Homo sapiens: one gene and its partner. The protein of the gene in region 1 purifies or fractionates together with the protein of each later gene. This does not show direct contact. Each region holds a gene or a part of one and is shown in the gene's direction. Other genes may lie near its edges. The genes, in order: LGALS7B and DDX19B.

Region 1 (15,998 bases):
AGATTCATAGTATGCAGCAAGATAGAACCCCCTAGTAGGGAGCAGTGGCTCACGCCTGTAGCACTGTGAGAGGCTGAGGCAAGAGGATCGTTTGAGACCACGAGTTCAAGGCCAGCCTGGGCAACATAGCAAGACCCTCATCTCTAGAAGAAATAAAAAGCTGGACATGACCAGGCGTGGTGGCTCATGCCTGTAATGCCAGCATTTTGGAGGTGAGGTGGGTGGATCACCTGAGGTCAGAAGTTTGAGAACATGGCAAAACCCTGTCTCTACTAAAAATAGAAAAATTAGCCAGGCGTGGTGGTGCTCGCCTGTAGTCCCAGCTCCTCGGGAGACTGAGGCAGGAGAATCACTTGAACCTGGGAGGCAGAGGTTGGTTGCAGTGAGCCGAGATCCTGCGCTCCAACCAGCCTGGGCGTCAGAAAGAGACCTTGACTAAAAAAAAAAATCCCCTGTTTAAGACAGATGGATTAATTCCTTCTGTTTCTGTCCATAGGCTCTTGATTGCTTCTTAGGACTTCTCCAAAAGTGGAAGAAACAAGAAAACGTTGTCATTCTGAAACATCTTTACTATTTTTCTGAGGCTGCAGCCTTGGCCAGCCCGCAATCTGCCTTTCCAGGCACAGCAGGTGACAGTGTGAGTGGATAATTTGTTACCATGTAGCAAGAGACACTGGCTTTCCACCCTGCAATACAGGAGTCCTTCCTATCAGCCTCTCCTCTATCTCCTCCAGCCACGCCCTCATTTTAAGTTCTGCTGCCTGTATCAGCCACTTCTCCCACTGTCATGTTGGGGTTGCTGGTTGCTGGCAACAGAACCCTCCTCCGCTAGTTTACAGAGATTATTAGCGGCTATGACAGCTTACAGAATTTTTTTTTTTTTTTGAGACGGAGTTTCGCTCTTGTTACCCAGGCTGGAGTGCAATGGCACGATCTTGGCTCACTGCAACCTCCGCCTCCTGGGTTCAAGAAATTTTCCTGCCTCAGCCTCCCGAGTACCTGGGATTACAGGCATGAGCCATCATACCCAGATAATTTTGTATTTTTAGTAGAGAGGGGGTTTCTTCATGTTGGTCAGGCTGGTCTCGAACTCCCAACCTCAGGTGATCCGCCCGCCTTGGCCTCCCAGAGTGCTGGGATCACAGACATGAGCCACCATGCCCGGCAATAGCTTACAGAATTTTCAGAGGACTAGGGAATAAGCTTCCGTGCTGCAAAGCTAGAGGGTGGATGCGGAGAGCATTCCCTGGCCAGAGCTTCCTAGGCTGTTCTAGATAAAAATAAATACCTCCATCACCTAACTAGCCAGAAGGCTCATCTCCCTCCCGTAAGTGTTACCTCATTTTCACCTTCTAAGTTTTGCAGGTGGTGGAGTGCAGTGGCTGATACCTGTAATCCCAGCACTTTGGGAAGCTGAACTGGGAAGACTCCTTGAGGCCAGGAGTTTGAGACCAGCCTGGGCAGCAGAGGAAGACCCTGTCTCTACAAAAAAAAAAATTTAAAAATGAGCCAGTTTTGGGCCAGGCATGGGGGCTCACACCTGTAATCCCAGCACTTTGGGCAACTGAGGCTGGTAGATCGCTTGAGCCCAGGAGTTCAAGACCAGCCTGAGCAACACAGTGAGACCCTGTCTCTAAAAAAAAAAAAAAAAAAAAAAAAAAGCCGGGCACAGTGGCACATGCCTGTAATCCCAGCTACTTAGGAAGCTGAGGCAGGAGGATTGCTTGAACCTGGGCTGTTGAAGCTGCAGTGAGGCGAGATCACACCACTGCACTCCAGCTGGGGTGACAGAGTGAGATCCTGTCTCAAAAAAAGAAAAGAGTCAGGCGCGGTGGTTCACGCCTGTAATCCCAACACTTTGGGAGGCCGAGGCGGGCAGATCATGAGGTCAGGAGATCGAGAACATCCTAGCTAATACGGTAAAACCCCGTTTCTACTAAAAAATACAAAAAATTAGCCGGGCATTGTGGCGGGCGCCTGTAGTCCCAGCTAGTTGGGAGGCTGAGGCAAGAGAATGGCATGAACCCAGGAGGCAGAGCTTGCAGGGAGCCCAGATCACGCCACTGCACTCCAGCCTGGGCGACAGAGCGAGACTCCGTCTCAAAAAAAAAAAAAGAAAAGAAAAGAAAAGAAAAAATTAGCCAAGTGTGGTAGCACACAACCGTTGTCCTACCTACTACTCCAGAGACTGAGGAAAATTGCTTCAGCCTGGGAGTTCTAGGCTGCAGTGGGCTATGATGGTGCCACTGCACTCCAGGCTGGGTGACAGGGCAAAACCACAGAGCAAGACCACTTCTTTCTTGGCTGGCTGGCTTTCTCTTTCTTTCTTTCTTTCTTTCTTTCTTTCTTTCTTTCTTTCTTTCTTTCTTTCTTTCTTTCTTTCTTTCTTCTTTCTTTCTTTCTTTCTTTCTTTCCTTCTTTCTTTCTTTTTCTTTCTTTCTTTCTTTCTTTCATCTCTCTCTCTCTTCCCTCCTTCCCTCCCTCTCTCCCTCCCTCCCTCCCTTCCTTCCTTCCTTCTCTCTCTCTTTCTTTTTGGACAGTCTTGCTCTGTCACCCAGCCTGGAGTGCAGTGGCACAAATTCTGCTCACTGCAACCTCCACCTTCTGGATTCAAGTGATTCTTGTGCCTCAGCCTACCCAGTAGCTGGGATTACAGGTGCGTGCCACCATGCCAGGCTAATTTTTTGTATTTTAGTAGAGACGGGGTTTTGCCATGTTGCCCAGGCTGGTCTTGAACTCTGGAGCTCAGGCAAACTGCCCACCTCAGCCTCCAAAGTGCTAGGATTACAGGTGTGAGCCACAGTACCTGGCCACGAGGGCATGTCTTCAAAAAAAGAGTTTTCCAGGGGTGCAAACTCAGCTTGGGGAAACCCAGTCCTATGTGAATCTAGCTACAAATAACTCTGGGAAATGTAGTTTTTAACTGCCTAATGCAAGAAAGCAGGCCAGGCTGGGTGCGGAGGTTCACGCCTGTAATCCCAGCACTTTGGGAGGCCAAGGCAGGAGGATACTTGAGTTCCAGAGTTTGAGACCAGCCTGGGCCACATAGTGAGGCATCAGCTCTACTAAAATAAAATAAAAAAAAAATTAACTGGGGGTGGTGTCACATGCCTGTAGTCCCAGCCACTTTGGCGGCTGAGGCAGGAGGATTGCTTCAGCCCAGGAGGTTGAGGCTGCAGTGCATGATGATCTTGCCTGGGCAATAGATTAAGGCCCTGTCTCAAAAAAAAAAAAAAAAAAAAAAAAAAAAAGGTGGGCCCGCTGGGGAGTGAGTTAGAAGCTGAGTAAGCCAATCTTCAGTGGTGGTTACCAAATTACTTGGAAAGATATAATTAGTTACATAGTGGGTAAATGTCTTTAACTGTGGGAACAGTTAGAATTCACTAAAAAGATTTTTACCTGTATCATTTTCATCACTGGAATGTTAATATATAAAACCAAAGGAGTCCCTGAAGTATCTTCACTGTGTTTAAAAAATAACCAAAACCACAGGGCATGGTGGCTCACACCTGTAATCCCAGTACTTTGGGAGGCCAGAAGTTGGAGGATCACTTAAGCCCAGGTTCCAGACTAGCCTGGGCAACATAGCCAGACCCTTGGCTAGGCACAGTAGTTCACATCTGTAATCCCAGCACTTTTGAAAGCTGAGGTGGGTGGATCACTTGAGGTCAGGAGTTCGAGACCAGCCTGGCCAACATGGTGAAACCCCATCTCTACTAAAAATACAAAAATCAGCCAAGAGTGGTGGTGCATGCTTGTAATCCCAGCTACTAAGTAGGCCAAGGCAAGAGAATCGCTTGAACCCAGGAGGCAGAGCTGAGATTGAGCCACTGCACTCCAGCCTGGGCAACAGAGTGAGACTCCATCTCAAAAGAAAAAAAAAAAAGAACCCATCAAGGACGTAGATCTGTTATCAGAAATGAGTCAGGACTTCGGGCTGATAACAGAGTTAATGTGCAAACCCTTGGCCAATCAGCAAAGGCACATTGGGACTTGCAGTATGTTGGCTACATGTGAAGTTACATCCAGCCACAGTGAAGCAATCACTAAAAAAAAATCAAAAATAAAACAAAAAACAATAACTCAAAATATCACTAACAAAATGGCACTGACAGAACCTGGGGTTTTAAATCCCTACAAACACTTAGTGTGCGATTAGTTACTTTTCAACTAAGTTATATCCTGAAAGAGGCCTAAAATCAGAAAAATCAGTCTGTCCCAACCCACTTTCTCATTTTCACGGCAAATGAACTTATTTTTCTTTTCTTTTCTTTTCTTTTTTTGAGACGGAATCTTGGAGTCTTGCTCTGTTGCCCAGGCTGGAGTGCAGTGGCGCGATCTTGGCTCACTGCAAGCTCCACCTCCCAGGTTCATGCCATTCTCCTGCCTCAGCCTCCTGAGTAGCTGGGACTACAGGTGCCCGCCACCACGCCTGGCTAATTTTTTGTATTTTTAGTAGAGACGGGGTTTCACCGTATTAGCCAGGATGGTCTCGATCTCCTGACCTCGTGATCCGCCCGCCTCGGCCTCCCAAAGTGCTGGGATTACAGGTGTAAGCCACCGCGCCTGGCCTTTTTTTTCTTTTTTGAGACCGAGTCTCGCTCTGTCACCCAGTCTTGAGTGCAGAGGTGCGATCTTAACTCACTGCAGCCTCCGCCTCCCAGGTTCAAGTGATTCTCTTGCCTCATCCTCCCCAGTAGCTGGGACTACAGGCAGGCGCCACGCTGTCGCATTGGCCAGGCTGGTCTCAAACTCCTGACCTCAGGTGATCCGCCCGCCTTGTTACCCAGGCTGGAGTGCAGTGGTGTGATCTTGGGTCACTGTAGCCTCCACCTCCAGGGCTCAGGTGATCCTCCTGCCCTAGCCTCCCGAGTAGCTGGGACTACAGGCACATGCCACCACAATGGATCAAAGGAAACTTTGTGGCTACTAACTGCTCAGGAGTGACAGTGGCTTCATGTGGCAGAAGGAGCAGTGACTGTTTCTAGGGGCACCAGGAAACTTGATTGGGGAGGTGGTTACACAGGTGACTATATGTGTCAAAACTCATTGAACTATTCCATTAAAATCTGAACCCTGAGCAGGGGCTCACACCTATAATCCCAGCACTTTGGGAGGCCAAAGCAGGTGGATCACTTGAGTCCAGGAGTTTGAGAACAGCCTGGACAACATGGCGAAACCCCATCAGTACAAAATAATACAAAAATTAGGCAGGTGTGGTGGCACACTCCTGTAGTCCCAGCCACTCAGGAGGATGAGGTGGGAGGATCACTTGAATCTGGGAGGCAGAGGTTGCAGTAAGTTGAGATCATACCACTGCACTCCAGCCTGGGCGACAGAACAAGACCCTGTCTCAAAACAACAACAACAACAACAAAATCTGAACCTTTTATTTAATGGGAAAAATACCTCAATGAAATAACAATTGGGAAATAAACACATTAGTTATTTAAAACCGAAAAAAGACACACAAATATTACCGTGGCCAGGCCTGTAATCACAACATTTTAGGAGACCAAGGTGGGAGGATCGCTTGAGCCCAGGAGTTTGAGACCAGCCTGGGCAACATGGTGAGACCTCCTCTCTAGGAAAAAAAAAAAAAAAAAAAAAAAAGCTGGGCATGGTGGCGTGCAACTGTAGTCCAAGCTACTCCAGAGGCGGGAGGATTCCCAAGCCCAGGAGGCCAAGGCTGCAGTAAGCCATGATCACAGAGAGAGCCAGACCCTGTCTCAAAAAAAAAAAAAAAAAAAATTATTGCACAACTAATGAGAAAGATAACACAATTGAATAAGAACTCATCAAGGGCTGGATGCAGTGGCTCATGCCTGTAATCCCAGCATTTTGGGAGGCTGAGGTGGGTGGATCACTTGAGGGCAGGAGTTCAAGACCAGCCTGGCCAACATGGTGAAACCCTGTCTCTACTAAAAATACAAAAATTAGCCATGAGTGGTGGCACATGCTTGTAATCCCAGCTACTCAGGAGGCTGAGGCAGGAGAATCACTTGAACCTGGGAAGCAGAGGTTGCAGTGAGTCGAGATCGTGCCACTGCACTCCAGCCTGGGTGACAGAGCAAAACTCTGTCTCAAAAACAAACAAACAAACAACAACAACAACAACAAAAACCCATCAAGGATGCAATCAAGGATGCAGATCTGTTACCAGAAAGGAGTCAGGACTTCAGGCTAATAATAGAGTGAATGGAAAGCTTTGGCCAGTCAGCAAAGGCACGTTGGGACTTGCAGCATGTTGGCTGCATGTGAAGTTACATCCAGCCACAGTGAAGCGATCACTAAAAAGTTGAGTTCCTGGGAAACACGGTACACAGCATGAGGCGTCAGTAATGTGAGGAGTGTGTTCTTTAGAATGGTCAATAATGTTAGAATGATGGAGTTCACCATTCAAGGGAACATTCTCGGGAACTAACTGAGCTGCGCTGGTGGTGTGATCACCGGACACCCTGCTGTCCTCTCTGTCCGTGCCCATGACATGTCCTTGGCACAGACACCCCTGTGGAGCCCAGGGCCTGGCCGCTTCCTTGGCTGAGAAGCTGTCCCTGTCTAGGCCTCAGTTTTGTCTTCTGCAGAATGGGGGTGCTTGCAGCTCCCACTGAAATGCAGCTGCAAGCCTCCCTCTCTGAGCTCACGTCCCTAGGAACTGGTCCCCCACCTTGGTGCCTTGGAGTGTGTGGGGAGGGGGCAAGAGGCTGGGGGCCTGGGACAAAGAGGGTGGAGGATGGTTCTGGGTCTGGTGTCTCCACCCAAACTTTCCACTGCCAGCCTGCCTCTGCCCAGGCCTCTCAGCAGCCTGCTGGGTGGGGCAGGAGTGCAGGAGTTGGGTGGGGAGTGGAAAAGGTCCAGGAGGGCTGCTGCATTGCTAGGAGTGGTTTATTTTTATTTATTTATTTGTTTGTTTGTTTATTTATTTTTGAGATGGAGTCTTGCTCTGTTGCCCAGGCTGGAGTGCAGTGGCGCGATCTCGGCTCACTGCAAGCTCTGCCTCCCGGGTTCATGCCATTCTCCTGCCTCAGCCTCCCGAGTAGCTGGGACTACAGGTGCCCGCCACCATGCCCGGCTAATTTTGTTTTGTATTTTTAGTAGAGACGGGGTTTCACCGTGTTAGCCAGTATGGTCTCGATCTCCTGACCTCGTGATCCACCCGCGTCGGCCTCCCAAAGTGCTGGGATTACAGGCTTTATTTTTATTTTTTGAGACAGAGTCTAGCTCTGTCGCCCAGGCTGCAGTGCAGTGGTGTGATCTCGGCTCACTACAACGTCCGCCTCCCCAGCTCAAGCAATTCTCCTGCCTCAGCCTCCCAGGTAGCTGGGATTACAGGTGTCCACCACCACACCTGGCCAATTTTTTGTATTTTCTATAGAGAAGGGGTTTCACCATGTTGGCCAGGCTGGTCTTGAACTCCTGACCTCAAGTGATCCACCTACCTTGGCCTCCCAAAGTGCTGGGATTACAGGCGTGAGCTACCATGCCCAGCCAGGAGTGGTTTCTGTTCAGCTCCCACACCATCCCTGCCTTTCAGAAACAGATTTCAGTCCTGCCCGCCCCCCCCCCCCCCCCCGCCTCCCCCAGTCTACTTCCCCAACCCTGGATTCTCTTCTAGAGTCTTGGGCCCAAGCGGGCTATATTGGGGCTGGCGGGAGGGTCCCCACCTTGCTCTGCTTTTGATCTAGGTGGTGATGGAATGCTAGGCCACCCACCACCCTAAAACCCACCTCATCCTGACCTGCAAAATTGGTGGGAAGATGGTAACAGTCCTGGAAGGAGGAACAAGAGAGACTTGAAGGAGAGAAGTGGGACAGGAATACGCGGTAGACAGTTATAGACAGAGACAAACAGAGCCAGACAGCCAGCCCCAGAGACAGAACCCACAGGAGAGGCACGCCCAGAGGTGAGGAAAGGCAGAGGTTGGGGCAATGGGTCCTGCCCGGCTTGTGGAAAATCACTTCCCATCCCAGCCTCAGCCTCCTTCTCTGTACAATGGGGGTGACCCATGCTTCTCTCTGTTGGAATGGTGGGGTCCCAATCAGTGATTTCCTGCATATCCTGGGCAGCCCAAGGGCCTGGGAAATGACAAGCGTAGTCCTAGTGGATCCCCTCCTTTCACCCCTCCTGACTGAGGACTTCCCATGAACCCGGCACACTCCAGGACCCAGGGGTGCAGCACTGAGCCAACCAGGCCGCCCTCCGACCCTGTGAAGTCCCCCTGTCTGGCACTATCGTCGTTGTTGTGGCTGCTGTTCCACTGGAGACTTAGAAGCAGGGATTTCAGCGCAGACATTTCCAGTCTAGGCAGGAGGTTCTCAGCTGGAGAGAAGGGTCTAGAGTTCCCGCTGGGCTTGGCTTCTCAGGACCCAACATGTCTGTGGATAAAATGAGCATGAGAGACTCTCCTGTGTGCCAGGCAGTGGGAAGACAGGGGTGGAGGGGCGGTGGCTCTTATTATCAGCTCCTAGGAGAGGGGCAGTGCACCCGGGCTCTGGGTGATGGGGGGATCAGGGCCCCCAAGAAGAGGCGCCACTCCCACTTCGCCAGGCTTGCCCCAGGGCCAGGGTCCGTGCCAGGTGTGGGTGGTGGGTGGGAAGGGGTGGGGTGAGTCATCAGGGCCAGCCCCGCCCTGCTTTTATTTAAGGTCCCCAGCAGGCCCCACCACCACGGCTGCCCAACCCGGTCCCAGCCATGTCCGTGAGTGCTCCAGGGGCCCGGGGCGGGGCCAAGCAGGGAGGGGGCTGGGGGCTCCTCTTTCAAAGGAGCAAGTGGGCAGTGAGTGTGCCACGGACTGGCCTGGGCTGTGGCCTCCGGGTAACCCCCATCCCGACTGTCCCCTCTACCTCTTTGTGGCTTCCTCTGGGGCCCTCTTTGAGGATCTTTCTGTTTGTCTTTGTTGCTCTCCCCATCTGTTTCCCTGTCTGTTTCTGGTCTCTTTCCTGCCTCTCCGCCACCCTTTCCTCTTCCACTGATTTCTGCCAGTCTCAGCCCTGGTCGGCTCCTCTGAGGGGTGACCCACCTTCTGCCTCCCTCCTTCGGTCTCACCGGCTCACAGTGGCCCCTGCACCCCACTCTTGCAGAACGTCCCCCACAAGTCCTCACTGCCCGAGGGCATCCGCCCTGGCACGGTGCTGAGAATTCGCGGCTTGGTTCCTCCCAATGCCAGCAGGTGAGGCCCCAGGCCCTAGGGGTAAAGGGTACAGGTCTCAGGATCAGCTGACTCCCAATTTTTGCAGTCCAGAAGTAGGGGCCCGAGGCCACCTGTATCCACCAGGCTAGGAGTCCGAGGCCATTTCTGACCTCAAATCTGATGTATTCGTATTTGCCCCCGTGCCTTTGTGGCTGGGGTCCCTAAGTTTCCCTAAGCATTTGAGGTCCCTGGGTAATCTCAGGGTTCCTAGATATAGTCCTATGACTTCCATGTCTGAGTCCCAGGGAACTCTGGAAATACTCCAAGTCCTGGAGACACCCTGGACCCTGGGAGTCCTTGCCAAGCCATCCTTTGACTTCCTGGCTAAGGAACTTCGGGCCTTCTGGATTCTGAGGTACCCTGGAAATACTGGGGTTCCTGGTATTATTCTTTGTCCTGTAGAAGCTGAGGGTTCCCTGAGCATCAGGAGCACCCTGGCTATCACCCAGACCTCCTGGGCAGCTCCCAGGCTCTTTGGAAATGAGGGCACCCTGCCCTAAGCGTAGTGAGTTTGGTCTGGGTAGGTTTCTGCCAAGGGCCTCATGATATTTTGGCTGCCTTGGGAATCTAAGCTCCCTGGTCATTAGTCGCCCACCTCTCCTTCTGCGGTGTGTGCCTGTCTTCAGGTCCCTGTTAATTTGGGGGTACTCTGGGAATGGGGAGTGCCAGCCCATAAGACCTTCACTTTGGTCTGGGCGGTTTATGTTTTGTTTGTTCTTTCGTTTTTTTGTAAGGTGGGGTCTCGCTATGTTGCCCAGGCTGGTCTTTAACTTCCGGGCCCAAGCGATCCTCCCTTCTCCACCTCCCAGAGTGCTGGGATTACAGGGTGAGCCACTGCACCCAGCCAACATTTCATTTACTTATTCATTCAAAGTAAATTGTAGACATCGGTATTCCTCACCCTCAACATTTCTTGGTCTGGGTGGTTTCTGAGCCCTGACGGCCACCATCCCCCTCTTCCAGGTTCCATGTAAACCTGCTGTGCGGGGAGGAGCAGGGCTCCGATGCCGCCCTGCATTTCAACCCCCGGCTGGACACGTCGGAGGTGGTCTTCAACAGCAAGGAGCAAGGCTCCTGGGGCCGCGAGGAGCGCGGGCCGGGCGTTCCTTTCCAGCGCGGGCAGCCCTTCGAGGTGCTCATCATCGCGTCAGACGACGGCTTCAAGGTGCGTCTCTGCGACAGGGGCGTGGACGCCAAGACTTAGGTCCCTGGAGCAGAGGGTTGGGCAAAGCCAGGCTATTGGTGGAAGGCAGGGAGGTTCGGGGCGGGGTGAGGGGGGTAGGGAAGTCGTGGCCAAGGCGGAGAAGGGTGTCCTTCGACCCTCTCTCTCGCCTAAACAACTCCCACTTGGGTCCGAGGGACAGAGAGACAGCAGGGTCAGGACGAGGCGAGCACCAGCCAAGTGTCCAAGGGGTGGGCGTCCTAGCGGGAAGGCGTGGCCCAGACTCGCCATCCCAGACCCTACTCCCAGTTCATTCCTTCCTGAGGTCCGGGGTTTGAGGCATGGGGAGGGATGGGTTGGAAACAGCGCCCAGGAACTCGTCCTAGCAAGGATTGGCGGGTGGGAGTGGCGGCAGATCCTCCACCACCCACAGCTTACGCGAATTCACCTCCCTCCTCTGCGCTTTAATAGCGGGTAATGGTCGCTGAAATGAGAATATCCATTACCAGCACTAAAAAAGCCGCTTTTTACTGTGCCACACAGTCAACTCGTTTGATCCTCACGCAAGAGTTAGAATGAACAATAGCCCCATTTTCCCAGTGAGGAAACTGAGGCCCAGAGGGGATGAGTGATTTCCCCAGGGCCACCCAGCACGGGCCTCCGGAATCCTCACCACCGACCCTCCCCTGCAGGCCGTGGTTGGGGACGCCCAGTACCACCACTTCCGCCACCGCCTGCCGCTGGCGCGCGTGCGCCTGGTGGAGGTGGGCGGGGACGTGCAGCTGGACTCCGTGAGGATCTTCTGAGCAGAAGCCCAGGCGGGCCCGGGGCCTTGGCTGGCAAATAAAGCGTTAGCCCGCAGCGCGACTGTGTCTGTGTCCCATTCACTGAGATGAGCAAACTGAGACCCAGAGAGGCCAAGATACTGGCTCCGGGCCACACAGCGAATCCGAGGCGGAGGCGGGCTCTGAGCCTGCCTGTGCTTAGGACACTTTCTGTCTGCGAAGGCGTGAGGGTCGCGATCTGGGAAGGAGTGGGTGTGGGGCGTGCCCTGACGCAGCATTTGTGCAAAGCAAGCCAGCTGGGAATGCGGTCGGGCGGACCTGCTGGCGTTTGGGGCGCAGAGGCGCTCACCGCAGGTCCTGGTGCCCCCACTGCAGATCTAAGGGGCGCCAACATGGGTCCATCTGCAAAGGGGGCGAATGAGTCCCACCTTTCTGGTCATTTGTGGGCCCCAATCCTACGGGTGGAAAGCGTGTTATAAGATCCCGGGTCCCTGGGTCCCGTATCCCCCTGCAGCTCATCTCTCCCACCCTCTTCTCTCCTGGCCTCCCGCCCCTAGAGACGTCCCAGGTGGGGCTGGGAAGCCCGACGGGCGTCTCCGGGCTCCCGCTGTTCCCCGAGTCGGGACAGGTACCCGCCTGCGCACCCTCGGGGCAGACGCGATGGCAGCGGCCCCGGCTCTGCGGAACAGCTGGGAGGACTCGAAGGACGGCGTGGGTTTTCCCTGGCGCAGCGAGCCCCATTCCCACGCGCCCTCCGCTCTCCCCGACGGCCCGGACCCCGGTCCTAGCCCTGGTCACTGTGACGGGAGGGGAAGCGGACGCCAAGTGCAGCCCCGGCCCCAGTGTGACTTTCAGGGTTCAGGGCGTCGCTGGGGCTTCCCTTAATGGCGGGGTTGGGGTGGGAGAGGCTGGGAGCACTGTGCGCCTCGAGCCCCCACCCTCGGCGAGGCACCCTGCAGCGGTCGCGGGTCTCTCAACCGGGGACCGAGGAGCCAGGCCAGGGCTGCGATCGGAAGCTGCACGTGGGTGTTCAGGGCCGGCTGTTCCGGAACCTTAGTGCAGAGCCACATCTTGGTGGGCGCGCCAGGCCTTGGGTCTCGATCCCCGCCCTTGAGCCTCCGACCCCCTGGCGTCCGCCTTCCGCATTGCTGCCTGGACCAAGGCGGATGCAGGAAGCTGGGGTGGTTCCTGGCCTGGCCTGAATCTGATTCTGGAGTCAGGTGGGGACGCCAGGTTCGCTGCAGGTCCCAGGCGCATTCAGGACCCGGGGTTTTAGGCCCCTGCGACCTTCGGTCTGGGCGGTCCCTTCCCGTGTCCGGCCCTGGAGTGGGTGGGCGGTGGCCAGGAGCGAGCCCAGCTCTGGTGAGGAGGCCTGTGAGAGGCCGGTTTCTCCCAGTCCTCCGGGGCTCCTGCTTGAATGAGTTCGCTCTTATTTCATTTGGCTGTGTCGAGTGTTTTTAAAATATCAGTTTTTTCATAAAGATAATATATGCATCTGGTATACATTTCAAAACATACAGTGAAATGAACACACATTATTGGCACAAGTGGTGAATGTGGTTGGGTCTTCGGATTAGACAGTAGCGATCCAGCCGTGTTAATGTCCTGAATTTCACCGTTGACTGACAGTGTACATGTGGGAACTTGTCCCTGTTTGTGGAAAATAGAGTTAGGTATTTGGTGGTGCAGCATGTTTGCGACTTATTCTCAAATGGTTCTGAGGCAGGAAAATAGGGTCTGGAGGCAGGGAACATAAGGCTGATTCACACTTCAGCTATGACAGGAAACATCCTCTCCATTTACATAGGGCGTACAGCAAGTAACCAATGGAAACCTCTAGAAGGTATTTAAATGCCAAAAAATTATGTAACCCAGCCCTTGAGCCCCTATGCTCCGCCGCACCCACACTGTGGGGTGTATTTTTATTTTCAATAAATCTCTGCCTTTGTTGCTTCATTATTTCCTTGCTTTGTGCGTTTTGCCCAATTCTTCATTCAAGAGACCAAGCACCTGGACACCCTCCATCGGTAACAGTTCATCAAAAATTTTTAAATAAAAAATTTTTTTTGTTGAGGCAGGGTCTTGCTCTGTTGCCCAGGCTGAGTGGAGTTGTGGATAAGGGCTTACTGCAGCCTCAACCTCCCAGGCTGAAGCCATCCTCCCACCTCAGCCCCCCAAGTAGCTGAGACTACAGGCACGTGCCATGGTGCCAGGCTAATTTTTTTGGGGGGGGCGGGTGTTTGTAGAGCCAGGGTCTTGCTATGTTGCCCAGGCTGGTCTTGAACTCCTGGACTCAAACTCCTGAGCTCAAGCGATCCTCCCACCGAGGCTTCCCAGAGTGCTGGGATTACAGGTGTGAGCCATGGTGCCCAACCTAAATCCTTCTTTATTAAGTTTGTCTTCAAAGAAATTTAGAATTTATGATTCAGCTTCCCTTCTCTCCTCCCCATCCTCCTGGATCTTTCTGTAACAGCTCTATTGACATATAACTCATATGCTATACAAGTCACCCATTCAAAGTATACAAGTCAATGTTTTTCAGTATATTCACAAGGTTGTGCATCCATCAACACAATCTAATTTTAGAACATTTTTATCATCTCAAAAGACCTTGGCTCACAGATGTAATCCCAGCACTTTGGGAGCCTGAAGCGGAAGGATTGATTGAGCCCAGGAGTTCAAGACCAGCCTGAGGCCGGGCGCTGTGGCTCACACTTGTAATCTCAGCACTTTGGGAGGCTGAGATGGGCGGATCACTTGAGCTCAGGAGCTCGAGACTAGCCTGGCCAACATGGCAAAACCACATCTCTACTCAAAATACAAAAAATTAGCCAGGCGTGGTGGCACGCACCTGTAATCCCAGCTACGTGGGAGGCTGAGGCAGGAGAATTGCTTGAACCCGGTAGGCGGAGGCTGCAGTGAGCAGATAGCACCATTGCACTCCAGCCTGGGTGACAGAGCAAAGCTCTGTGTCAAAAAAAAAAAAAAAAAAAAAAAAAAACAACCTGGGAAATATAGGGAGACCTCATCTCTACAAAAAATAATTTTAGCTGGGCATGGTGGTACACACCTGTGGTCCCAGTTACTCGGGAGGCTGAGCTAGGAGGATGGCTTGAGCTGGAGAGGTCGAGGCTGCAGAGAGCCGTGATCGCTCCACTGCACTCCAGCTTGAGCAACAGAGTGAAACCCTGTTTCAGAAACAAAACAAAACAAAAAAGAACAACTAAAAGAAACCCCATACCCATAAGCAGTCACTCCCCAACTTGCCCCTCCCCCAGCACCTGGCAATCACTAACCTACTTTCCAGCTGTATGGATTTATGAATCTGCTTGTTTTCCACACGTGGAATCATACAATATGTGGCCCTGTATATCTGGCTTCTTCCACGGAGCATCATGTTTTCAGGGTTTGTCCATGTCATAGCATGCATCAGCACTTCATTCCTTTTCATGGCTGAATGCTGTTCCAATGTGTGGATCGAATATACGCGTTTACCCATTCATCATGGTGAATAATGGATATCTGGGTTGTTCCTACATCTTGGCTATTATGAATAATGCTGCTATGAACCTATTGTGTGAACATGTTTTCATGTCTCTTGGGTAAGTACCTAGGAGAATTTCTGGGTCAGGCCAGGTGCTGTGGCTCATGCCTGTAATTCCACCACTTTGGGAGGCCAAGGCAGATGGATCACCTGAGGTCAGGAGTTCGAGACCAGCCTGATCAACATGGAAAAGCCCCATCTCTACTAAAAATACAAAATTAACCGGGCGTGGTGGTGCATGCCTGTAATCCCAGCTACTTGGGAGACTGAGGCAGGAGAATCGCTTGAACCCAGGAGGTGGAGGTTTCAGCGAGCCGAGATCGCACCACTGCACTCCAGTCTGGGCATCAAGAGCGAAACTCCGTCTCAAAAAAGAAAAAAAAAAAAAGAATTCCTGGGTCACATGACTCTTTTAAGTTCCGTTTCAAAGAACTGCCAAACCATTTTCCAAAGTAACTGTAACATTTTACATTACCATCAGCAACATATGTGTTCCTATTTCTCCATGTTCTCTCCAACACTTGTTATTGTCTTTTTTTTTTTTTTGAGACAGGGTCTTGTTCTGTTGTGTAGGCTGGAGTGCAGTGGTGAAATCATGGCTCACTGCAGCCTCCACCTCCTGGGCTCAAGCAATTCTCCTACCTCAGGCCTCCCAATTAGTTGGAACTATAGGTGTGCGTCCCCATGCTTGGCTAATTTTTAAAAATTTTTTGTAGAGACAGGTTCTTGCTATGTTGCCCAGGCTGGTCCTGAACTCTTAGCCTCAAGTGATCCTCCCACCCCGGCCTCCCAAAGTGCTGGGATTACAGGCATGAGCCACCACACCTGACCTATCTGTCTTTTTTATTATAGCCATCCTAATAGGTTGGCTTCACCACTTGGTGAAGAGATATGTCATGTGGTTTTGATTTGCATTTCCCTAATGACATGGGTTGCCGTTTATATATCTTCTTTGCAGAAATGTTTATCGAAATTTTCTGCCCATTTTAAATTGGATTTTTAAAAGGTGTTATATAATCTTATCCATAAATATGTGTATAATTCTAAATGATATTTATTTTTTAATTTTTATTTTTGAGATGGGGTCTCACTATGCTGCCCAGGCTGGTCTCAAACTCCCAGGTTCAAACAGTCTTCCCACCTTAGCCTCCCAAGTAGCTAGGATTACAGGCATCTGCCACCACGCCTGGCAGGCTCTCTTTTTAAACAAAACCTCATTACCATTCTAACTCCTAAAAAATTTACAGTTCATATCATTGTATGATACAATGTTTGCAAAGTTTGTATGCAAAGGTTTCCCCCAACATTTTATTATGA
Region 2 (15,927 bases), on another chromosome or scaffold:
ACTGTGGTCCTTATCCATTTGAGCATTTCTCATGCCTAACCTGGCAGGCATTGTTAACTGAGTAAATGAACTGTGTAGTTTGTTATTTGTTGCAAAGAAACTTTTGATCATTCACTCTCAATATGTAAATATCTATTTAGAAATTGCATACTTTACTGTTTTATTAAATATATTATGTACATTGTAAAGCAAATAAAAAAGTAATAAAGGCTGAGATAAAAATGAAATAATGCTTTCCTGTGCTTGTGTGTGCTGGCTTCATATTTTTATTAGCCAATATCTCAAGGCACAATATACACTTAGAAAAAAAACACATCATTAGTCAACGTAGAGATAAATATGTGTTTCAAGTAGTTCTGAGAGGTTTTTTGTTTTTTTAATTATTATTTTTTAAATTTTTATGTATTTATTTTTTGAGACAGAGTCTCACTCTGTCGCCCAGGCTGGAGTGCAGTGGCGCAATCTCGGCTCACTGCAAGCTCCACCTCCTGGGTTCACGCCATTCTCCTGCCTCAGCTTCCCGAGTAGCTGGGACTACAGGCGCCCACCACCATGCCCAGCTAATTTTTTTGTATTTTTTTGGTAGAGATGAGGTTTCACCGTGTTAGCCAGGATGGTCTCGATCTTCTGACCTCGTGATCCGCCCGCCTCGGCCTCCCAAAGTGCTGGGATTACAGGCATGACCCACAGCACCCGGCCTGTTTTTTTTATTTTTTAGTTCTGAGAGTTTTGACTATTTTAACTAACTTCTTGTTAGGTCAGTTTTGTTGTTGTTGTTGTTGTTGTTTGTTGTTGTTGTTGTTTTTGAAATAGAGTCTTACTTTGTCACCCAGGCTGGAATGCAGTGGTGTGTACATGGCTCACTGCACCCTTGACCTCCCAGGCTCATGCAGTCCTCCCACCTCAGCCTTGCAAGTAGCTGGGACTACAGGTGTGCACCACCACACCTGGCAAATTTTTGTATGTTTTGTAGACATAGGGTTTCACCATGTTGCTCAGGGCAGTCTCAAGTTCCTGAGCTCAAGCTATCACCTGCCTTGGCCTTCCAAAGTGCTGGGATTATAGGCATGAGCCACTGCACCCGGCCATTCAGGTCAGGTTAAATTGTCATTGTTTTAACCTATTAATGTGCCTAAGAGGGTTTGTTAGGAGTAGGTAGCTTTGACATTTTCTTTTTGGCTTGAGTTTGCATCATAGAGTTATCTTTTGGATAGAACAGAAACTCATAATAATGAATCCAGTGATAATAAAAACTCAGGTATGAAATGATTAACTCTTGCTGTTTTTAGCAGGCCCAAACTAGCCATTTTATTAACCTTACAACAACAAATTCCTGCATTTTATGAAACAGAATCTTGAGACCCTATTATTATGACATTATGGTGAGATTAAAGTGTACAGTTCACTGATGGTTGGTGTATTCAGAAGTGTGTAGCTTATATCACAGTCAATTTTAGAACATTTTCATCACCCCAAAAGGAAACTCTGTACACATTAGCAGTTACTCCCTGTTTCCCTACAAACTCCCCAGCTCTAGGCAATCACTAATCTACTTTCTGTCTCTTTAGATTTGCCTCTTTTAAACATTTCATATAAATGGGAACATACGGTATGTGATCCTTTGTGACTGGCTCCTTTTATTTAGTATAATGAACTAAGGTTCATTAGTTGTAGCATGTATCAGTACTTTATTCCTTATTGTTGCCAAATAATATTCCATTGTGTGGATATACCACATTTTATTTATCCACTTATCAATTTCTGGACATTTGGATTATTTCTACTTTTTAGCTACTATGAATAATACTGCTTTTGATTAATGTACAAGTTTTTGTGTGGACATATAGTTTCAATACTCGGGTATATATCTAGAAGTGGGACTGCTGGATTATATAGTAATTCTGTATTTAACTTTTGAGAAAGTGCCAGGATGTTTTCCAAAGCAGCTGCATCATTAATCTTTAAGATTAATATTGTCTATGAAATAATATGTCTTTTTTTATTTTTTATTTTTTGGAGACAAGAGTCTCGCACTGTCTCCCAGGCTGGAGTGCAGTGGCACCATCTCGGCTCACTGCAACCTCTGCCTCCCGGGTTTAAGCGATTCTCATGCCTCAGCTTCCTAAGTAGGTGGGATTACAAGCACGTGCCACCATGCCCAGCCAATTTTTCATATTTCAGTAGAGATGGGGTTTCATCATGTTGCCCACAGTGCTCTCGAACTCCTGAGCTCAGGCAATCCATCCATCTCGGCCTCCCAAAGTACTAGGATTACAGGCGTGAGCCATCACATCTGGCCATATGTATATATATGTGTGTGTGTGTGTGTGTATGTATATATGTGTGTGTGTGTATATATGTGTGTATTTTTTTTAATAGAGATGGGGTCTCATTCTGTCACCCAGGCTGGAATGCAGTGGCAAGATCATAGCACACTGTAACCTGGAACTCCTGGGCTCAAGCAATCCTCCCACCTCAGCCTCCCTGGTAGCTGGGACTATGGGCACATACCACCATGCCCAGCTAATATATTTATTTATTTTATTTTAAAATTTATTTAAATTTATTATTTATTTATGTATTTATTTTTATTTATTTATTTATTTTGAGACGGAGTCTCACTCTGCTGCCAAGGCTGGAGTGCAGTGGCACCATGTCGGCTCACTGCAACCTCTGTCTCCTGGGTTCAAGTAATTCTCCTGCCTCAGCCTCCTGAGTAGCTGGGATTACAGGCACCCACCACCATGCCCAGCTAGTTTTTATATTTTTAGTAGAGACAGGTTTTCACCATGTTGGCCAGTCTGGTCTCGAACTCCTGACCTCAGGTGATCCACCTGCCTCGGCCTCCCAAAGTGCTGGGATTACAGGCGTGAGCCACCACACCCGGTCTATTTATTTATTTATTTTTAAGACAGAGTCTCACTCTGTTGCCCAAGCTGGAGTGCAATGGTGTGATCTTGGCTCACTGCAACCTCCAACTCCCAGGTTCAAGTGATTCTCCTGCCTCAGCCTCCTGCGCCACCACACCTGGCTAATTTTTTTTATATTTTTTTAGTAGAGACAGGGTTTTACCATGTTGGTCAGGCTGGTCTCGAACTCCTGACCTCAGGTGATCAGCCTGCCTCAGCCTCCCAAAGCTCTGGGATTACAGGAATGAGCCACCATGCCCAGCCTATTTATTTATTTTTTAGGAGATGGGGTCTCACTATGTTACCCAGGCTTGTCTCGAACTCCATGAGTTCCAAGGATCCTCCCTCCTCGGCCTCCAAAAGTGCTGGGATTCAAGTCACAAGCCACCATGCCCTGTCAATATTTTTATTTTTAATCTTTATAGAGGTGGAGTCTCACTATGTTGCCCAGGCTTGTCTCAAACTCCTGGCCTCAAGGGAGCCTCCCATTTCAGCCTCCCAAAGTGCTGGGATTACAGGTGTGAGCCACTGTGCCCAGCTGTTTTTTTTTTTTTAAAGTTCTAGGGTGCATGTGCAGGATGTGCATGTTTGTTACATAGGTAAACATGTACCATGGTGGTTTGCTGCACCTATCAACCCATCACCTAAGTATTAAGCCCCACATGTATTAGCTCTTTTTCCTAATGCTGTCCCCCACTGCCCTCCCCCATTAGTGTATTCTTTATCCTTCAGAATTAGTGAAGGATTTTTACTGCTTTATAATGATTTCTTTTTTTTTTTGTTTGTTTTTCAGTCGGCTTTCTCCAGTTGAATGGTTTCCTTTTTGTTAAGTTGCTTTTTTCTAATCTCTTTAATGTGTTCCCTTTCTTTTTCCTCTTTCCCAACACCAAAGCAGAAAGGGACCAGAAACTTCTTGTCCATTTCCATGAATAGAAATGGGAGGCTGGGCGCGGTGGCTTATGCCTGTAATCCCAGCACTTCGGGAGGCCGAGGCGGGCAGATCACGAGGTCAGGAGATCGAGACCATCCTGGCTAACACGGTGAAACCCCGTCTCTACTAAAAATATAAAAAGTTAGTCGGGCATGGTGGCAGGCGCCTGTAGTCCCAGCTACTCCGGAGGCTGAGGCAGGAGAATGGCGTGAACCTGGGAGGCAGAGCTTGCAGTGAGCCAAGATCACGCCACTGCACTTCAGCCTGGGCGACAGAGCGAGACTCCATCTCAAAAAACAAAACAAACAAACAAACAAAAAGAAATGGGGCTCCTGGCTGGGTGCAGTGGCTTACGCCTGTAATCCCAGCACTTTGGGAGGCCGAGGCGGGTGGATCACGAGGTCGAGAGTTCGAGACCAGCCTGACCAACATAGTGAAACCCCGTCTCTACTAAAAATTCAAAAATTAGCTGTGCGTAGTTGCACACGCCTGTAATCCCAGCTACTTGGGAGGCTGGGGTAGGAGAATTGCTTGAACCCAGGAGGCGGAGGTTGCAGTGAGCCAAGATCGTACCACTGCATTCTAGCCTGGGCGACAGGGCAAGACTCCGTCTCAAAAAAAAAAAAAAAAAAAAAGAGAAATAGAAATGGGGCTCCTCCATTCTCAACAAACCACCAATTAAAACATTTTTTTGTTCTCTCCTCTCTACCCTCCTTCCCCTTTCGCCTGTTCTTGGACTTAGAGGGACAACAGAAATGCGGCCTAATGCGTAGTTCACACTTATAATTCTAGCACTTTGGGAGGCTGAGGCAGGAGGATCGCTTGAGCCCAGGAGCTCAAGACCAGCCTGAGCAACACAGTAAGATCCCAACTCTACAATAAAAGATTAGCTGGGCAGGCTGGGCGCAGTGGCTCATGCCTGTAATCCCAGCACTTTAGGAGGCCAAGGTGGGCGGATCATGAGGTCAAGAGATTGAGACCATCCTGGCCAATGTGGTGAAACCCTGTCTCTATTAAAAATACAAAAATTAGCTGGGCATGGTGGTGCATGCCTGTAGTCTCAGCTACTTGGGAGGCTGAAGCAGGAGAATCGTTTGAACCCAGGAGGCGGAGGTTGCAGTGATCTGAGATAACACCACTGCACTCCATCCTGGCAACAGAGCAAGACTCCGCCTCAAAAAAAAAAAATTAGCTGGACATGGTGGTGAGTGCCTGTAGTCTCAGCTACTTGGGAGGCTAAGGCAGGAGGATTGCCTGAGCCTTAGGAGGTTGAGGCTTCAATGAGCCATGATCATGCCACTGCACCACTCCAGCCTGGCCAACAGAGTGAGACCTCGTCTGCAGAAAAAAAAGAAAGAACCATTAGGTTGTGATTTTCATTTTCTTTTTACTAGATGATGTCTTAGGCCCTGCTTGATATTTTATGATTAGGGTTGGCTTTAGCTTGAAAGGTTACTTACTCACGCCAGACTTTCCATCTATCTAATCCCTGTGCTGGGGTCCAAGACTTACAGATGCTTTCTGACCTTTAAAAAAGTCTTTTTTGGCCAGGTGCGGTGGCTCATGCCTGTAATCCCAGCACTTTGGGAGGCCGAGGCAGGGAGATCACGAGGTCAGGAGATTGAGAACATCCTGGCTAACATGATGAAACCCTGCCTCTACTAAAAATACAAAAAAATTAGCTGGGGGTGGTAGCGGACGCCTGTAGTCCCAGCTACTCCGGAGGCTGAGGCAGGAGAATGGCATGAACCCGGGAGGCGGAGCTTACAGTGAGCTGAGATCAGGCCACTGCACTCCAGCCTGGGCAACAGAGCGAGACTCTGTCTCAAAAAAAAAAAAAAGGCTTTTTTGTTTTGTTTTGTTTTTAATAAAAATGTACGACTAGAAAGGCCGGGCGTGGCAGCTCATATCTGTAATCCCAGCACTTTGGGAGGCTGAGGCAGGCGGATCACGAGGTCAGGAGATCAAGACCATCCTGGCTAACACCGTGAAACCCCATCTCTTAAAAAAAAAGAAAATACAAAAAATTAGCCGGGCGTGGTGGCGGGCGCCTGTAGTCTCAGCTGCTCGGGAGGCTGAGGCAGTAGAATGGCGTGAACCCGGAAGGCAGAGCTTGCAGTGAGCTGAGATCGCGCCCCTACACTCCAGTCCAGGTGACAGAGCAAGACTCTGTCTCAAAAAACAAACAAACAAAAAATTTACGACTAGAGCACTTACTTTGCTCTGTACTACATCCAAAGGCCAAAAATAGAAATATGCTACTCTGGGCACATTTCCTGTGGGGTAGCCCTGCTCCTCAAGGAGCAGTAGAAAACGAAATAGGCCCTGTCAGGAAGGTATTTGCATTCTAATAGAGGAGATAAGACCTGCTAGGATATCCCTAATATACAGTATTTGATCAAAGTCTTAGTAATTATTCTTTGAAATGTCTCTTTCCTTTCTATTTCCACTTCAGCCCAGTGGGTATTTTAATTACACAGTGTGCCACAATGCTTCAGGCTGTTCCCAACTACAGTATCAGACACCAGCAAAAGGTGACTTGAATGTGAGGCTGCACATCAGCATACTGTGGTCTTACGGCTCTAACGTATCCTGCAGTATGACTGATTCCTACCCACAGATGCTTTTCTTTTCTTTTCTTTTCTTTTTTTTTTTGTGAGACGGAGTTTCACTCTGTTGCCAGGCTGGGGTGTAGTGGCGTGATCTTGGCTCACTGCAACCTCCGCCTCCTGGGTTCAAGCGATTCTCCTGCCTCAGCCTCCCAAGTAGCTGGCACTACAGGCATGCACCGCCACGCCCAGCTAATTTTTGTATTTTTGGTAGAGACGGGGTTTCACCATGTTGGCCAGGATGGTCTCGATCTCTTGACCTCGTGATCTGCCTGCCTGAGCCTCCCAAAGTGTTGGGATTACAGGCGCGAGCCACCGCACCTGGCTTTACAGATGCTTTTCATCACAGTCCTCCCTTCCCAGTGTTCTCCAAAGTATGACTGCATTTTTCAAAATCTCTTTAAATTTCCTCTTGTTTGAAATATGATTTGGAATGCAGCGATTCCCCCCCACACACAAAAGAAATATGAGAGAATGACAACTCTAATGATATTCTACAAAGAGAGAAAGTTTATAATCAGGGCATTAAGCAAACTCACAAATTACAATTCTCTCACAGAATTTTAAGTAGAAGGTACAGATTTGGAGCATTTTTTTCCACCGATGTATTTACGGGAAATTTTGTTTATTCTCATCAGACATTTAGTAAACGGAACAACCCAATGAATTGGTCCTAATGAATATACCTTGAGAATGGCTATTTTATCCCCAGCTTCATTAGGGAGGCTCTGTTGATTCCAAATCTTTTTAAGTGCTTTTCCTGACACTTTCCCCCTCCCCCATATTCTCCATTTAGTTGAGCAACTTGCATCTTAAGGAAGAGAAAATCAAACCAGATACCAATGGTAAGTAACTAATAGCTAGTTTGAAAACAAATGTGATTTCCTTCAGTATTTTTGTTTTGGCATAACAACTGTCTGGAAAAAAATTTGTATTTGTACCAGGCAGGGCATTGGCAGATACTGGTACCATTTGATTTGTAAATCAACAAACTGGATTGTATGACCAAAGTGTTTTTATTTATTTTTTTGTTTCTGTTTACTTTTTAAGAGACAGGGTCTTGCTCTGTTGCCCAGGCTGGAGTGCAGTGGTTCAATCATGGTTCACTGGAGCCTCAACCTCCCAGACTCAAGTGATCCTCCACCTCAGCCTCCTGAGTAGCTGGGACTACAGGCACAACCCACTACGCCCAACTAATTTTTATTTTTTATTTTTTATTTTTTTGAGACAGAGTCTCGCTCTGTTGCCCAGGCTGGAGTGCAGTGGCTCGATCTCGGCTCACTGTAAGCTCCACCTCCCGGCTTCACACCATTCTCCTGCCTCAGCCTCCCGGGTAGCTGGGACTACAGGCACCTGCCACCACGCCTGGCTAATGTTTTGTATTTTTAGTAGAGATGGGGTTTCACTGTGTTAGCCAGGATGGTCTCAATCTCCTGACCTCATGATCCACCGGCCTTGGCCTCCCAAAGTGCTGGGATTATAGGTGTGAGCCACTGTGCCCAGGTATTTTTGTTTTTTTATAGAGATGAGGACTCCCTGTGTTGCCCAGGTTGGTTTCTAACTCCTAGGCTCAAGCAGTCCTCCCGCCTCAGCCTCCCAAAGTGCTGGGATTACAGGAGTGAGATATTACACCTGGTTTCAAAGTGTTTTTAATACAAGAATGAGGATTGCACACTGATAGCAAGGGTGTGGGGGGAACAAAGAATGAGGCTACTTAAGTGGGACTAATTACTAACCATCGGACTACATTGACAAAGACTAATTTTTTTCTTAATGTTCTCAATTTGGGATGAGATAGACAAAGTATGAGCAATCTGACAGTTTACCTATCCTAATTATTCTGAAATCATATTTATCCAAAGTTAAGATTTCCATTAAATTATTGTTGATGTACTTAATATTACAGGAAGGAAATGTAACATTTGCCTTTCTCAAAATTCACTTAAATCTTTTTTGTATGATTTTATATAACCACAGTATCATTCGACTATAAATTTATATTAATCAATTTATAGGCCGGGTGTGGTGGCTCACACCTGTAATCCCAGCACTTTGGGAAGCCAAGGCTGGCGGATAACCTGAGGTCAGGAGTTTGAAACCAGCCTGACTAACATGGTGAAACCCCATCTCTACTAAAAATACAAACATTTGCCAGGTGTGGTGGTGCACCCCTGTAATCCCAGCTACTCAGGATACTGAAACAGTGGAATCTCTTGAACCTGGGAGGCAGAGGTTGCAGTGAGCTGAGATCGCACCACTGCACTCCAGGCTGGGTAAGAGTGAGACTGCATCTCAAAAAAAGAAAAAAAAAATTTATATGCATGAATTTTTTTTGTTGGTCTTACTGCTCATTTGTTATATACATGAATTTTAATGGCATTATTGTGTTCACCTATTGATAAAATACGATTTGCATAGATATTCCTCTGTTGAGCATCAAGGTGGTTTCTGATCACTAATTGCTCTAATCTTTCTATAATATTTAAGAAGTATTGATTCAATGAGGGAAATAACAGGTTTTGAGGTACGGAGAGGAGACCTAGAATAGGAAAGAATATGAGCAACAGAGGCCGGGCGCGGTAGCTCACGCCTGTAATCCCAGCACTTTGGGAGGCCAAGGCAGGCGGATCACGAGGTCAAGAGATCAAGACCAGCCTGGCTAACATGGTGAAACCCTGTCTCTACTAAAAATACAAAAAAAATTAGCTGGGCGTGGTGGCGGGTGCCTGTAATCCCAGCTACTCGGGAGGCTGAGGCAAGAGAATGGCGTGAACCTGGGAGGCAGAGCTTGTAGTGAGTTGAGATCGCACCACTGCACTCCAGCCTGGGCGACAGAGCGAGACTCCATCTCAAAAATAAATAAATAATAAAATAAATATCTATCTATATATATATATATGTGAGCAACAGTGTTTTACACCTTTGTTTATTTAGGGACAATAAAATGTTTTTATCAGCGGCTCGGTTTCCTCATTTATTTTTTGCTCCCCAGGCCTTTACAAAAACTTCTAGTGTCATAGAATTTGAATTGTCTCAACTGTTGGGTATGGGATGCGATTTTGAATGATGGCCACTTTGTGTCTATAAAGGTGCTGTTGTCAAGACCAATGCCAATGCAGAGAAGACAGATGAAGAAGAGAAAGGTAACACAGCCGTGGAGCTTTATATAATAACAAGCTTCTACATTCTAAGAAAGTGGATTGTTATGAGGCTTCATTTTTATACCCAGTTTGGCTTGACTTTAATAGGCGATACAGTGCTAGCATAAAGGTTCAATATAGGGGCCGGGCACGGTGGCTTACACCTGTAATCCCAGCACTTTGGGAGGCCGAGGTGGGCAGATCACGAGGTCAGGAGATCGAGACCATCCTGGCTAACACGGTGAAAACCCGTCTCCACTAAAAATACAAAAAAAAAAAAAAAAATTAGCCGGGCATGGTGGCAGACGCCTGTAGTCCCAGCTACTTGGGATGCTGAGGCAGAAGAATGGCATGAACCCGGGAAGCAGAGCTTGCCATGAGCCGAGATCGAGCCACTGCACTCTAGCCTGGGCGAAAGAGCGAGACTCTGTCTCAAAAAAAAAAAAAAAAAAAAGTTCAATATAAATAGTCAGTAGGTGAAGGAGTTCTAATGGTTTACGTTTAGAGAAATTTTACATTTAACAACTGAACAGTTGAATAGGGCATTATAAAAAATTTTCAGTTGCATCTCTATTGTCCAGTAAAATTAAGCTTAATGTTATTTTGACACATTTGACATGGATGACGAGACCAACTTGTCCAATATTAAGGTACAGACTTTGTTAATTCCTGTTTTTTTTTTTATTGTTGTGATTGCTACATTAATTACTTTAGGTTTATATATAGTACAAATTGGGGAGTAAATATGTGGGTCTGGATAGGAGGAATAGATAACTGCAGGAAAAGAGGGCTGTTAGAATAGAGTCTGGAAAAGAATATGAGGCCTAAATGGGTGATGTATCATAACTTTTTTCTTTAATAAAACTATTTTAATTTATAAGTCAAAACTATGACGTACCTTGAATTTGAATGTTCAGTACATTATTATTTAAAATACAAATGGCAGTTGAATTAGAGTAAACGCCTGGTAGGTTTCAAGGACTTTTTAAAATTCTTTGCTTTCTTTTTCCTGACAGAGGACAGAGCTGCCCAGTCCTTACTCAACAAGCTGATCAGAAGCAACCTTGTTGATAACACAAACCAAGTGGAAGTCCTGCAGCGGGATCCAAACTCCCCTCTGTACTCGGTGAAGTCTTTTGAAGAGCTTCGGCTGTGAGTATTTATTCACCTTCTGACTCTTCCCCTTTGCACTGAAATAGAGATCCTAGGTCTGTTATAGATATCTTTTGACCACAACAGAGCAGTTTTAGCTAACCAAGTTTTTTTTTTTTTTTCGAGACAGAGTCTCACTCTGTTGCCCAGGCTGGAGTGCAGTAGCGCGATCTCGGCTCACTGCAACCTCCGCCTCCTGGGTTCGAGTGATTCTCCTGCCTCAGCCTCCCAAGTAGCTGAGATTACAGGTGCACACCACCACGCCTGGCTACTTTTTGTATTTGTAGTAGAGATGGGGTTTCACTATGTTGGCCAGGCTGATCTTGATCTCCTGAACTCATGATCCACTTGCCTCGGCCTCCCAAAGCGCTGAGATTACAGGCATGAGCCACCGCACCCAGCTGCTAACCAAGTTTTATAAAAGAATTTAGCTGGGTGCCGTAGTGCACACCTGTAATCCCAGCACTTTTGGAGGCCAAGGTGAGAGGATCACTTGAGGCCAGGAGTTGCAGACCAGCCTGGGCAACATAGCGAGACCAGACTCCATCTAAAAAATATACATAAATACTGTAGATGCTTTGGGATATTTAGTAAAATTTCCAGATGATGGATAAAAGCTTTAGCTGTACTAACATGTATTCAGTTCACCACAGCTCAATTATTGTTGATTACAAACTATGTGTAGGCCAGGCATAGTGGCTCATGCCTGTAATCCCAGCACTTTGAGAGGCTAAGGCCGGCAGACCACTTGAGGTCAGGAGTTCAAGACCAGCGTGGCCAACATGGTGAAACCCTGTCTCTACTGAAAATACAAAAATTAGTCCAGGCACGGTGGCTCACGCCTGTAATCCCAGGACTTTGGGAGGCTGAGGCAGGTAGATCACGAGGTCCAGAGATTGAGATCATCCTGGCTAACATGGTGAAACCCCATCTCTACTAAAAATACAAAAAAAATTAGCAGGGCATGTTGGCGGGTGCCTGTAGTACCAGGTACTCAGGAGGTTGAGGTAGGAGAATGGCGTGAACCTGGGAGACGGAGGTTGCAGTGAGCCGAGATCGCGCCACTGCACTCCAGCCTGGGTGACAGAGCGAGACTCTGTCTCAAAAAAAAAAAAAAAAAAAAAAAATTAGCGGGGCATGGTGCCATGTACCTGTAATCCCAGCTATTCGCGAGGCTGAGGCACGAGAATTGCTTGAACCCGGAAGGTGGATGTTGCAGTGAGCCGAGACTGCACCTTTGCACTGCAGCCTGGGCAATAGATCGAGACTCTGCTCAAAAACAAACAAACAAAAAACTATGTGTAAACAGTAAAAGAGAAAAATCCTCCAGATATTTTGCTGCTTTCCTCAACCAAAGAGACTGTGACTTTCATCTTTAACTGTTTTTCTAGGAAACCACAGCTTCTCCAAGGAGTCTATGCCATGGGTTTCAATCGTCCATCCAAGATACAAGAGAACGCATTGCCACTGATGCTTGCTGAGCCGTATGTGTCCTATTACAACTCCATTTCATTTTAGATTTTCTATTTTTGAAAACTATTATTATTTTCACAGGCCAGCAAGGTGGCTTATGCCTATAATCCCAGCAACCTGAGAGGCAAGGCAGGAGGATCGTTTCAGGCCAGGAGTTCAAGACCAGCCTGGGCGATGTAGCAAGACCCTGTCTCAACAAAAAAAAAAACGTTATAAACTTGGCCAGGCATGGTGGCATGCAGCTGTAGTCCCAGCTACTCAGGAGGCTGAGGCAGGAGGATCACTTGAGCCCAGGAGTTTGAGGTTGCAGTGAACCATGATCATACCATTGTACTCCATTCTGGGCAACAAAGAAAGACCCTGTCTCGAAAGAGAAAAAGAGGAGGCTGAGGCACAAGATTTGCTTGAACCCGGGAGGCAGAGGTTGCAGTGAGCCGAGATCATGTCACTGCACTCCAGCCTGGGTGACAGAGCGAGACTTTGTCTCAAAAAAAAAAAAAAAAAAGTCAAGGGGGCCAGGTGCAGTGGCTCATGCCTGTAATCCCAACACTTTGGGAGGCCAAGGCAGGAGGATCTCTTGAGGTCAAGTGTTCGAGACCAGCCTGGCCAACATGATGAAACCCGACTCTACTAAAAAAATACAAAAGTTAGCCAGGTGTCATGGTGTGCTCCTGTAGTCCCAGCTACTCGGGAAGCTGAGGCACGAGAATCGCTTGAACCCCGGAGGTGGAGGCTACAGGGAGCTGAGATCACACCAGTGCACTCCAGCCTGGGCAACAGAGTGAGACTCCATCTCAAAAATGCAAAAAAAAAAAAGAAAAGAAAAAAAATCATCTGTAATCTCCCTCTCCCCACATTATTAACATTTTGGAGTGGAGACTTCTAGACTTTTCTCTATGTAAACATATAACTTTTAAAAAAGTTGACATATATGACCGGGGTGGTGGCTCATGCCTATAATCCCAGCACTTTGGGAGGCCGAGGCAGGTGGATCACCTGACGTCAGGAGTTTGAGACCAGGCTGACCAACATGGCTAAACCCTGTCTCTACTAAAAATACAAAAAAAAAATTAGCTGGTGTGGTGGCAGGCGCCTGTAAACCCAGCTACTTGGGAGGCTGAGGCAGGAGAATCGGTTGAACCTGGGAGGCAGGGGTTACAGTGAGCTGAGATCATGCCATTGCACTCCAGCCTGGGCAACAAAAGCAAAACTCCATCTCAAAAAAAAAAAAAAAAGTTGACATATGGCCGGGAGCAGTGGCTCATGCCTGTAATCCCAGCACTTTGGGAGGCCTAGCCAGGTGGATCACAAGCTCCGGAGATCGAGACCATCCTGGCTAACACGGTGAAACCCCATCTCTACTAAAAATACAAAAAATTAGCTGGGCGTGGTGGTGGGCGCCTGTGGTCCCAGCTACATGGGAGGCTGAGGCAGGAGAATGGCATGAACCTGGGAGGCGGAGCTTGCAGTGAGCCGAGATCACGCCACTGCACTCCAGCCTGGGCAACAGAGCGAGACTCCATCTCAAACAAACAAACAAAAAAAGGTGACATATAAATAATGTTTTACATGCTGTGTTTTTTAATTATATGATCATCTTCCTATGTTGGTAAATATAAGTTTATATCGTATATGCACCATGATTTCATTGTATTGATATATAAAAGCTATTGTGTCAAATATAATAGAAGCCAAACAGCTCTAGGAGACCTGAATAATACAGTTACTAAGGTGGTTTCCTGGTGCAGGGCATCTCCCACTTTCATAGGCATACAAATCTCATAGACATTTATTAAAATGCAGGGTCTGAATTTAGTAGGTCTAAGTGGGGACTGAGTGTCAACATTTCTAATAAGCTTGCAGGTGATGCTGATGCTGCTGGTTTCAGATCACATTCTGAGTACAAGATTCTAGAGCATGATGGAATTTTAATACAGATTGATCCTATATTTTATATGATTATATACAATTCTGCATATAATGCTAAATTCTGAATCTCTTTTTTTTTTTTGTCTAAAAATAGATATTTTAGGGCAAGTGTGGTGGCTCATGCCTGTAATCCCAATACTTTGAGAGGCCGAGGCAGGCAGATCGCTTGAGCCCAGGAGTTCGAGACCAGCCTGGGCAACATGGTGAGACCCTGTCTCTACTATAAATATAAAAAAGTAGCCAAGTATGGTGGCATGTGCCTGTAGTCCTAGCTACTAGGGAGGCTGAAGTAGGAGGATAACCTGAGCCCAGAAGATTGAGGCTACAGTGAGCAAAGATTGTGCCACTGCCCTCCAGCCTGAGCAAGAGTGAGACCCTGTCTCAAAAAATCATAAATAAAAATAAAAATAGATATTTTAGGTCTGTACTTTCTCAAAGTTTTTTGTTCTGTGTCATAACAGTGACATTTTCTCCAGATGGATAGTGTCTTTTTTTAAGCTTGGCACTTTGAGCATGCTTAGGGTAAATAAATGGAGTATTTATTACATGGTTTCATACTGATTGATCATTTATATTTGTGGATCTAATATTTTTGTAGATGCTAACTTTTTTTTTTTCTGGGAGATAAGGTCTCACTCTGTCACCTAGGCAGGAGTACAGCAGTGTAGTCATAGCTCACTGCACCCTGAGCACCTGGACATAAGCAATCCTCCTGCCTCAGCCTCCCAGGTAGCTAGGACTACAGGCACGTGCTGCCATGCCTGGCTAAGTTTCTTTATTTAATAGAGATGGGGTCTTGCTATGTTGCCCAGACTGGTCTTAATCTCGTGGCCTCAAGCAATCCTCCCACCTTGGCCTCCCCCAGTTTTTTTTTTTTTTTTTTGAGACAGGGTCTCACTCTGTTATCCAGGCTAGGTGCACTGGCACCATCTTGGCTCACTGCAACCTCTGCCTCCTGGGCGTAAGCAATCCTCCCACCTCGGCCTCCCACCCAAGTAGCGGGGGCCACAGGTGCAAGCCACCATGCCTGGCTAATTTTTATACAATTTTTTTTTTTTTGAGACAGAGTCTCGCTCTGTAGCCCAGGCTGGAGTGCAGTGGCGTGATCTTGGCTCACTGTAACCACCACCTCCCAGGTCCTGGATCAAGTAATTCTCCTGCCTCAGCCTCCGGAGTAGCTGGGATTACAGGCACGCTCCACCATGCCCAGCTAATTTTTTTTTTGTATTTTTAGTAGAGATGGGGTTTCACCATGTTGGCCAGGCTGGTCTTGAACTCCTGACCTCGTGATCCAGCCGCCTTGGCCTCCCAAAGTGCTGAGATTACAGGCGTGAGCCATCGTGCCCGGCCTAATTTTTATATTTTTATCAGAGACAGAGTTGTGCTATGTTGCCCAGGCTGGTCTCAAACCCCCCAAAGTGTTGGGATTACAGGTATGAGGCACCACACTAGGCTTTTTTTTTTTTTTTTTTTGAGACGGAGTTTCGCTCTTGTTGCCCAGGCTGGAGTGCAATGGCGCGATCTCGGTTCACCGCAATCTCTGCCTTCCAGGTTCAAGCGATTCTCCTGCCTCCACCTCCCAAGTAGCTGGGATTACAGGCATGTGCCACCATGCCTGGCTAATTTTGTATTTTTAGTAGAGATGGGGTTTCTCCATGTTAATCAGGCTGGTCTCGAACTCCCAACCTCAGGTGATCCGCCTGCCTCAGCCTCCCAAAGTGCTGGGATCACAGGCGTGAGCCACTGCGCCCGGCCTTCAGGCTTTTTTTTGTTTTGTTTTGGGG

The links.
Region 2: the proteins of LGALS7B (region 1) and DDX19B purify together in Homo sapiens (affinity purification with mass spectrometry; 2 studies listed by BioGRID). This does not show direct contact.

What each region holds. Positions count from the first base shown.
Region 1 is NC_000019.10:38,780,536-38,796,533, forward strand, and holds LGALS7B (galectin-7), read left to right. Parts: upstream 1-8,664; 5' UTR 8,665-8,691; coding exon 8,692-8,697; intron 8,698-9,080; coding exon 9,081-9,169; intron 9,170-10,153; coding exon 10,154-10,355; intron 10,356-11,044; coding exon 11,045-11,158; 3' UTR 11,159-11,219; downstream 11,220-15,998. UniProt on the Homo sapiens protein: Could be involved in cell-cell and/or cell-matrix interactions necessary for normal growth control. Pro-apoptotic protein that functions intracellularly upstream of JNK activation and cytochrome c release.
Region 2 is NC_000016.10:70,305,364-70,321,290, forward strand, and holds part of DDX19B (ATP-dependent RNA helicase DDX19B), read left to right. Parts: intron 1-7,245; coding exon 7,246-7,294; intron 7,295-9,538; coding exon 9,539-9,592; intron 9,593-10,276; exon of another isoform or gene 10,277-10,605; coding exon 10,606-10,741; exon of another isoform or gene 10,742-10,779; intron 10,780-11,892; exon of another isoform or gene 11,893-12,010; intron 12,011-12,132; coding exon 12,133-12,225; intron 12,226-15,927. UniProt on the Homo sapiens protein: ATP-dependent RNA helicase involved in mRNA export from the nucleus.